2 linked regions of the Homo sapiens genome follow. The protein of the gene in region 1 interacts with the protein of each later gene in a pairwise test. Each region holds a gene or a part of one and is shown on either strand. Other genes may lie near its edges.

The links.
Region 2: the proteins of SEZ6 (region 1) and CHDH interact in a two-hybrid assay, tested with the Homo sapiens proteins (one large-scale study listed by BioGRID and IntAct).

The regions. Positions count from the first base shown.
Region 1 is NC_000017.11:29,002,981-29,007,404, reverse strand, and holds the start of SEZ6 (seizure protein 6 homolog isoform 1 precursor), read left to right. Parts: upstream 1-1,371; 5' UTR 1,372-1,535; coding exon 1,536-1,590; intron 1,591-4,424. UniProt on the Homo sapiens protein: May play a role in cell-cell recognition and in neuronal membrane signaling. Seems to be important for the achievement of the necessary balance between dendrite elongation and branching during the elaboration of a complex dendritic arbor.
Region 2 is NC_000003.12:53,836,124-53,839,927, reverse strand, and holds part of CHDH (choline dehydrogenase, mitochondrial), read left to right. Parts: intron 1-3,804.

The sequences.
Region 1 (4,424 bases):
TCCTCTACAGGGAATAATAACATCAGCCATAGGATCCTGTCCCATTGTACCCATTAAAGCTCTTCAAGTGAGCCCATCCATGAGCCCCTGCCTTTAAAGAGCAGCCTCAGGATGGCACAGCTGTGACTGCCCCCTTGCTGTCCTGTGACTCACTGGGGCTCCTCAGCCCAAGCAGGGCCCTGGAAAGTTATTTTTCCATGCCTTTAATAGTACAGGCTACACCCCTGGGCCTCCTTCAAGTCTCTATCTAAAACAGCCGTAGGGCACAGTGGCTCATGCCTGTAATCCCAGCACTTTGGGAGGCCAAGGCGGGAGGATCTCTTGAGGCCAGGATTTCAAGACCAGTTTGGGCAACATAATGAGACCTTATCTCTGCAAAAAATTTAAAAATTAGCCAGGCTTGGGGGTGCATGCCTGTAGTTCTAGCTACTTGAGAGGCTGAAGTGGGAGGATCTCTTGAGCCCAGGAGTTTGGGTGAGCTATTAATATAATTGTGCCACTGCATTTCCAGCCTAAGCAACAGAGACCCTGTCTCTAAAAACAATAATAAAATAAAATAAAATAACAGCTCTAGGAAACCCTCTCTCATGCCTATGCCATTTTCTCCACCAATTCCAGAAACCTGGGCAGAGATGGCATGAAGGGTCTGTATCGACTGTCACTGTGGCTTCTCTGGTCCTGCAGAGGGGCCAAGGCAGAGTCCTGGAGACCCAGGGCTACGTGGGGACCCAGGATACTACCTTCAGCTGCCCACAGCTTGGCCCAGGTTGCCTCCTGCCAAGTGAAGAATGTCTCCCCAGGATGCGAGTGCCACTGGCTTTTAACTATAATATCAGGATAATTAAGCTTTTCTGTGAGCACAGTTTGCTGCTGATGCAGCTGCCTGGAGCCCTGGCATTTATTGAGCGCAAAGTAATAATTTATTATCCTTTGTACGCTCAAAAGCCATCTTCATTATCGTCCCAAGACGGAACTGCCACAAGGGCACGCGGGCCTCACCAGCTGCCTCACTCTCGGATGTCTTCCCAGGTCACCCTTGACGCCCTCAGGTACCAGGATTGGGTGGAGAGGGGTGGGGAAAGTGTTGCTCTTTCTCATGGAGAATCAGAAGGCTACAGTGAGCTATTAATTGAGGTTCCTTAGCAGGCCGTTAACGGGAAAGAGGGTGGCATGCTTGGCTGGGGGTGGGCAGCGCAGAAGGGCAGGGGCCGTGTGCCCACATGAGTAGGGCAGTCGCGGTGGAGCGGGAGCCTGGGCTCCTGCCCCTGGGTCTCTGCGCCTTTGCATGAGACTTTACGGTAAGCCGCTCCTCCCGCGCCCCCGCCCCCAGCCCCGCTCGGCGATCCCCGGCGCCGTCGCCAGGCGCTGGCCGTGGTGCTGATTCTGTCAGGCGCTGGCGGCGGCAGCGGCGGTGACGGCTGCGGCCCCGCTCCCTCTACCCGGCCGGACCCGGCTCTGCCCCCGCGCCCAAGCCCCACCAAGCCCCCCGCCCTCCCGCCGCGGTCCCAGCCCAGGGCGCGGCCGCAACCAGCACCATGCGCCCGGTAGCCCTGCTGCTCCTGCCCTCGCTGCTGGCGCTCCTGGCTCACGGTAAGGGACCCCGGCATCCGGCGGCAGGACGGGGGCGGGAGCGGGGCCCCAGGGGTGGGAAGGGAGACCCGGTGCCCAGCTTCGGGCATCTGGCTGCCCAGTCCAAGCACCGCGCCCCGCCGGCTGCGCTGCCCCCGGCGCCGGCCAAGCCGGGCGGGGCGCGGGCTTCGCGGGCGGGAAGCTGCCGCGGCTCCCGCCATTCGCGCCCGGCCGAGACCTCGTCTTTAATCATCTCCCCAGATCTAATGGGATTTCTCTGATGCAATTCATCACGCCACCCACTCCCCGCACACACGCGCTCACCCGCGCGCTACCTCGCCACACTCTAGGCATCTCAGGGTGCTGGGGCGCGTGCCGGGGGGCGCAAGGCAGTGAGTCGGGACGGTCCAGCTGGCGGCCCGTGGTCCCGCTTCCCCTGCCGCCCGCCAAACTTCGCTCGACTTTGCCGCCGGTTCCAGGGCCTCTAGTGTTCTTACTGAGGGGAGACGGGGCCGGATGGCGGCCGGACCCGGGGTTGGGACCTCGCTCACCTCCCCATGCCCTGGCGCTGCCACGCCAGAGTCGGGACCTAGAGCACAATTCTAGAGAGAAACTCCAAGGGCCTGGACCCCCTATCTGGCTCCTGGCTCTGCCCTCGGCTGCAGCAGCGGAGATCCTGGGATAGAGACTCTGTCCTCCCCAAAGTCCTTTCCTTGTACACACACACACACACACACACACACACACACACACACACCACTGCCCCGAGCTCTGCCTCCCTCCCGGCCTGCCTTCCTGCCCGGCCCTGGTCCACTCCCCACCTGCAAGGCAGATTTGTCTCTGGAGGACCTGTTCCCCACACCCTGAGAATCCCCGCGCCCCCTCTAGGAGTCTGGTCCCCAACTTCGTCGGTCTTGGGTAGAGGGAAGCTTGGCCATGGTGTGAGCGGCAAGGGAGTGTTGGGGAGAGGATAGGGGTTCCGTGCCTCGGGGAAGAGTCTTGTCTGGACCTGCCGTCCTGGCTCAAACAAGCTCTCATGGAAGCTACTGGCACCCACGTCCTTCTCCCGCTGCAGTAGGCTGGTAGGGTCGGCAGAACCGCACTTGGAGTTGAGACCTGCCATCCCTTGCCATATGGTTTGAAGGGCCTGATGTGAAGTGTGAGGGTGGGAGTTTCTAACCTCCCTGCTCGATCTTTCCAGGCCGCTGCCGAGGTCAAGGCAGCGCGGCCAGGGACAGGCTGGGCCCCCGGACGGCAGTTTTCTTCATCCAGGAAGAAAAACTGTGGCCCCGGAGACGCAGAAGCCTTTTTCTGAGCCTCTAGCTCCACTTGCACACAGCCCAGTGTCCTCACCCCGCTACCGGGCTGCCCATGCTGGATCCTCCGGCAGCGCCCAGAACTTGAAACCGTGTGCTCACGTTCTGGGGAGAGGGGAAGAGTCCTGCAAGACCCACCCCAGGGATGAAGACCGGGAAGGAGAAGTGTGAATCCCTGCCTAGCTGCCTGGGGATGTCCCTAGGAATTCCGAACCTATCTTGGGTCCTGATGGGTCCTGGCGCTGGACAGCTCCCCTGGGGCGCAGGGCCTGTGTCTGTCCCCTGGCAGTTAGTCAAGGCCTTGTGTGTGAGTTTGTGGGTCTGAATGTGAGAGTAATCAGGGCCCTGCATGACTAGAGGAGCCAGTCCCAGTGTGTCTGCACTTCAAGTGGTCCGAATCTTGGGTGAGGGGTCAGCAGTGAATGGGTGTGAGGACTGTGTGAGGCCACTAGTGTGTGGGTGCAGCCTCAGCCAGAGAGCTCCCTGCAGGGCTAGAGTGAGACTGTGGGAATCCAGGAGGAAGGCTGGTGTGGCCAGGAGTCCCACCAGCCCTGATGGGGATGTGGGTGTGAGTGTTAGGAGGAATCTGCTCACTCTGTGGCCTCAAGTCTGTGTGTCCCTGGGCAGTGTCCCTTCCTGACTATCAGGATCTCCAGTGCCCATGGAGGCACCTGCCAGTGGGATATGTGGGGTAGGAGTCTGGCTGTTGGGAAAGACCTCTATTTTCACTCCCCAAGGGAGACGAAGAGGCAGCCCCGAAGTGCCAAGCCTGAGGATGAGAGGGCTGGGATGTCAGAGCTGGGTAGCCAGAGGCTCCTCTCTCCTCGGCTGGACTGGAGGTCCCAACCATTGGGATAGTGAGTCATCTCAGTGGGGAGCAGCGCATTTGGCCATCCCGGGGTTCCTGGGCACTTTAGCTTTGTGAAGGCGAGCCTAAAGGAGCAAAGACCTCAGGCTATGAGCCTTTTCGGCCCGAGGGGTGCATCCCTCAGCCTTTCAGCCCCGCCACCTCTCTGATGAGGCCCTCAGAGCTTTGCTCATAGGCAGGATGCAGACTGCAGGATGTAGCCAGGCACGGCCCAGATGCCTTGGAAGGCCTGGTATGCCGAGGCTGCGGAGGTAGGGCAAAATCGTGCTGGGCTTGGCCCAAGCTCACAGGCTCAGTCCCCTATTCCCTTCTGCAGCCTCCAAGTCTTGATTGGCGTCAGGCATCAGGGGCGTCTTGGGCCACGGGGTATCTTCCCAAGCTGTGTGGGGTGCCTGGGCCATCCAGCCACAGTGGAGGAAAAAGCGGTGTTGAAGGGGCTGCGTGTGCCGAGCCTGCTGTGTCAGTTTAATGATTTTTAATGAGCAATTACCTTTAGTCATTCTCCTAATTTCTGAATATCAATAAAGTTAATTAAACTCTGCATGTGTGAATGTGGCCTAGGGAGATTATGAAGGTGGAAGCCGCTGAGACTGGGGTAAGGTTGGGTCTCAGGAATGGAGGCTGCCTCCATGGCTGTGTGACCTTGGACCTGCTGCTCCACCTCTCTGAGC
Region 2 (3,804 bases), on another chromosome or scaffold:
TTTCCATCAGTGTTGCTGCAAATGACAGGAACTCATTCTTTGTGATGGTTGAATAGTACTCCATTGTGTATATGGATCACATTTTTAAAAAATCTGTTTGTCCATTAATGGGTACTTAGGTTGATTCCATGTCTTGGCTATTGGGAATAGTGCTGCAGTAAACATGAATGTGCAGATATCTCTTTGATATATTGACTTCCTTTCTTCTATATACCCAGCCCAGTAGTGGGATTGTTGGATTATATGATATTTCTATTTTTAGTGTTTTGAGGCATCTCCATATTGTTTTCCACAGTGGCTGTACTAATTTGCATTCCCACAAACAATGTACAAAGGTTCCTGAAAGGGTGAGTTTAAACAACATAACTGCAGAATCATAGTCATGTCTGACAAATAATGATATCTTGACATCCTCACATACGCACTCAGTGTTCAGATGAGCAGGGTCCAGTGAAGAGCAGCACATTCTCATGGTTGGATCTTGTTCCTCTCACAGCCTGTAGGCTTCCCTTCCTCTCTCTCATCTCTCTCTCATTTATCCATTCTATACTTGGATTTATTGTTGAAGAACTGTGTGGGGTTTCCCTGCACTTGGATTCTGCTGATGATGGACCTTTGCAAGTTGCTCTGACCTTTGCGTTTCTTGTGAGTCGGTGGATTGATCTAGAAGTGTGATCAGATTCAGGTTTGAACTTTTGGGCAAGGATGTTTTATAGGTGGTATTGCATTCTCCCGTTCAGACCCCTGCCTGGACTATACAGAGAAGTCGGTCTTTTAATTGCCTCATGTGTGTGAAGTCACCTTGGTGAGTCCCCAGCTGACCCTCGCCCATATCTTTTTCTCCTTCTGCTGGTCCGGGCTCCCCGCTTGTTCTGACATCACCCTGGCTACTCTGTGGAGAGTTGGTTCTGGGGTAGCCTGAGGAGGCAGCACTAGTAGCAGGGACACTGCTAGTATGTTGTGAGGAGGGTCCCAGTGGAGATGATGGGGCCTGATCCAGGTGGTGTCCAAGGGGTGGACAAAAGTGGGCAGATTCTGCAGCACCAGCCTCATCCTTATGAGAGAAGCTACTACCCCCTAGGCCTCTGCTTCTGTGTCTGCTTTTCCTCCCCGGATAGTGCATTTTTATATACCAGTCACATGACAAGCGTTTATTGAGTGCCTGCTGTGTACGTGGCTCTGGGAGCTTCTAGCTCTCCCCCACTGCTGTCTGTAAGTGAATGCACATGGCAGGAAGAGCAGCTCCATGATGGGCTCTGCCAGGTGGGAGCTTGGTAACTCCTGGCCTCTGAAGCCTGCCCATGAGGAGAGCCTTCATCTCCCCTGGAGAGGGAACAGCAGTTGTCTTTCTTTTGCTGCTATGTGACTGCATAAGAGCTGGGACACCAGCGCCTTCTATCCCCTCGGTCTGCCTCTGGCTGTGCTCCGGGTTACCCATACCCACCTCCCTACTTTCACCCGAGGCCCTCTGTGCTGCAGATGCCACTCACCCAGGCACAGTGCAGCCCAGAGTGCAGGGAGTACACATCTGGAGCACAGTGGCCAGTCTTCCTCAGGGGCCAGCCTGAGGCACTGTATCCCCCATCCCCTAGTCTATCAGGTGCTTGACTCTGGGAGGGGCCCCTAAGGGATTCGGGTCTCCCCAGCAGCGACCTCTGTTGTACCCTGCCTCCTACCCATGGCTGGGCGCCCGCAGCACCTGCACAGACTGGATCCACAGACACGCCTGCAAGGGAGAAGAAATAGTAGGTTACCCTGAGGAGCCATCCGTGGAGGTTGAGCGGCCTGGGCCCCCCACCCTTGCCTGGGTGTTAGAACTCCAGGTTTCCAATCTTACAGTCTCTTTTTTTTTTTTTTTTTTTTTTTTTTTTGAGACAGAGTCTCACTCTGTCGCCCAGGTTGGAGTGCAGTGATACGATCTTGGCTCATGGCAACCTGTGCCTCCCAGGTTCAAGCGATTCTTTTGCCTAAGCCTCGAGTAGCTGGGACTACAAGGCGTGTGCCACCACACCCGGCTAATTTTTGTATTTTTAGTAGAGATGAGGTTTTGCCATGTTGGCCAGGCTGGTCTTGAACTCCTGACCTTAGGTGATCTGCCCACCTCAGCCTCCCAAAGTGCTGGGATTACAGATGTGAGCCACCGCGCCCGGCCTCCCACCTTACATACACTCTGCTTTTGGTATAGACCACCGTGAAGGTTTTAGAAAGTGGTGAAGCAGCTAGAGAGTGGAGGGATGTGTGCAGAGGGCAGAGGCCTGGAATGTGGAGCACAAGGTTCCCAGGCTGAGGAAGCACCCACAGTGGGGCAGCAGAGGGGAGGCAGGAGGGCAGACTTACTTCAGAGGAGCCACAGGCATCGGAGGTGCCCGCAGAGGCCAGCGCCCACGCCTTACCAACAGGAAACCCTGCCCTGGGTCACACGGTGCGGCCTGGCAGAGCTCTGATGCGATGTCAGACTTCAGGGCTCCACCTCGGGTTTTGTTGGCAGCCTGTAGCCTCAGCCCAGTCCCATCTGCCCCTTTTTACCAAGAGGATCCAGAGGGCAGGTGGGCTACGCCCGAGCAGCCAGGGCACAAGGGGCCAAGTGGTATGGCCTCGTCCACACTGTCCAGAATCATCTCCCAGGTAGCAGTTTCCAATTCAGTTGTTAATTATGTATCAATATGTGGGAGATGAGATTCCTGGAAAGAGAAACTTGACACTAAAGAAAATGCCCTTTTTTTTTTTTCTTTTAGAGACAGGGTCTTGCTCTATTGCCCATGCTGGAGTACAGTGGAACAGTGCTAGCTCACTGCAGCCTTGAACTCCTGGGCTGAAGTGATTCTCCTGCCTCAGCCTTCTGAGTAGCTAGGACTATAGGTACACACCACCGTGCCTGGCTAATTAAAAAACAAGTTTTTTTTTAGAAAAAATTTCTGGGTTTTGCTATGTTGCCCAGGCTGGTCTTCAACTCCTCAACTGCATCAAGCAATCCTGCCTCAGCCCAGAAAATGCTTTCAAAAAATTGTTTTAAACATTTTAATTGAGGTGCAACAGACATACGAAGTGTCCATCATGTTGGTTTTGATCTGTGTGTATGCCTGGGTAACCATCACCAGGTCTGGATCTAGAACATTCCCAGGGGGTGCCTTCTGTTGGTCCTGGCACAGGTGTATGAGCTCAGCATCCACATCTCAGACTGCGCAGGTTGGGTTTGCTGTAGGCCACGTGCAGCCTCATCCCCTGCATGTGTCCCCTTGGCCAGCATGACGCAGCGCCAGCCTCAGGCCAAGCTCAGCACATGGTGGGAGGCAAGGGCGTGGAGCCCTCAGCCAGGGATGTGGGCTTTCCACAGCTCATCTCACTATTAGCCTGTTGAGGTCCCAGTAAGTGGCACAGAGAAGTCCCAGGATGGATGTGGTCAGTGGTGAGGAGGGCAATCCATGCCTGAGGGAAGGTGAGGAGTGAGTAGGTGAAAGGAGGTTAGCACCTGTACCTGGAGGAGAGAACAGCATGTGCAAAGGCCCTGGGGAGGAAGGGAAGGTGGACCATGCACCTGGATCCCAGGGAGCGATGCTCACAGTGGGATGATGGCTACAGAGGCCGGGGCCTGGCCTGGTCGGGCTTAGGACAAGAGGGCCTGGGGGGCCATGAGGAAGCTTGTCCCACTGTCTTAGGGAGATGGAGGCCTGGGTTGGGGGTGGCATGAGATTCCTGAGAGAGGAGGAGCAGCTGCCCAGGGTTACTCCCTGGACCACCACCGCCTCTGGGCCCAGCCAGGTCTCATTCTCAAACTGGGATCCTTCCCACCCTGGGCCACTGCAC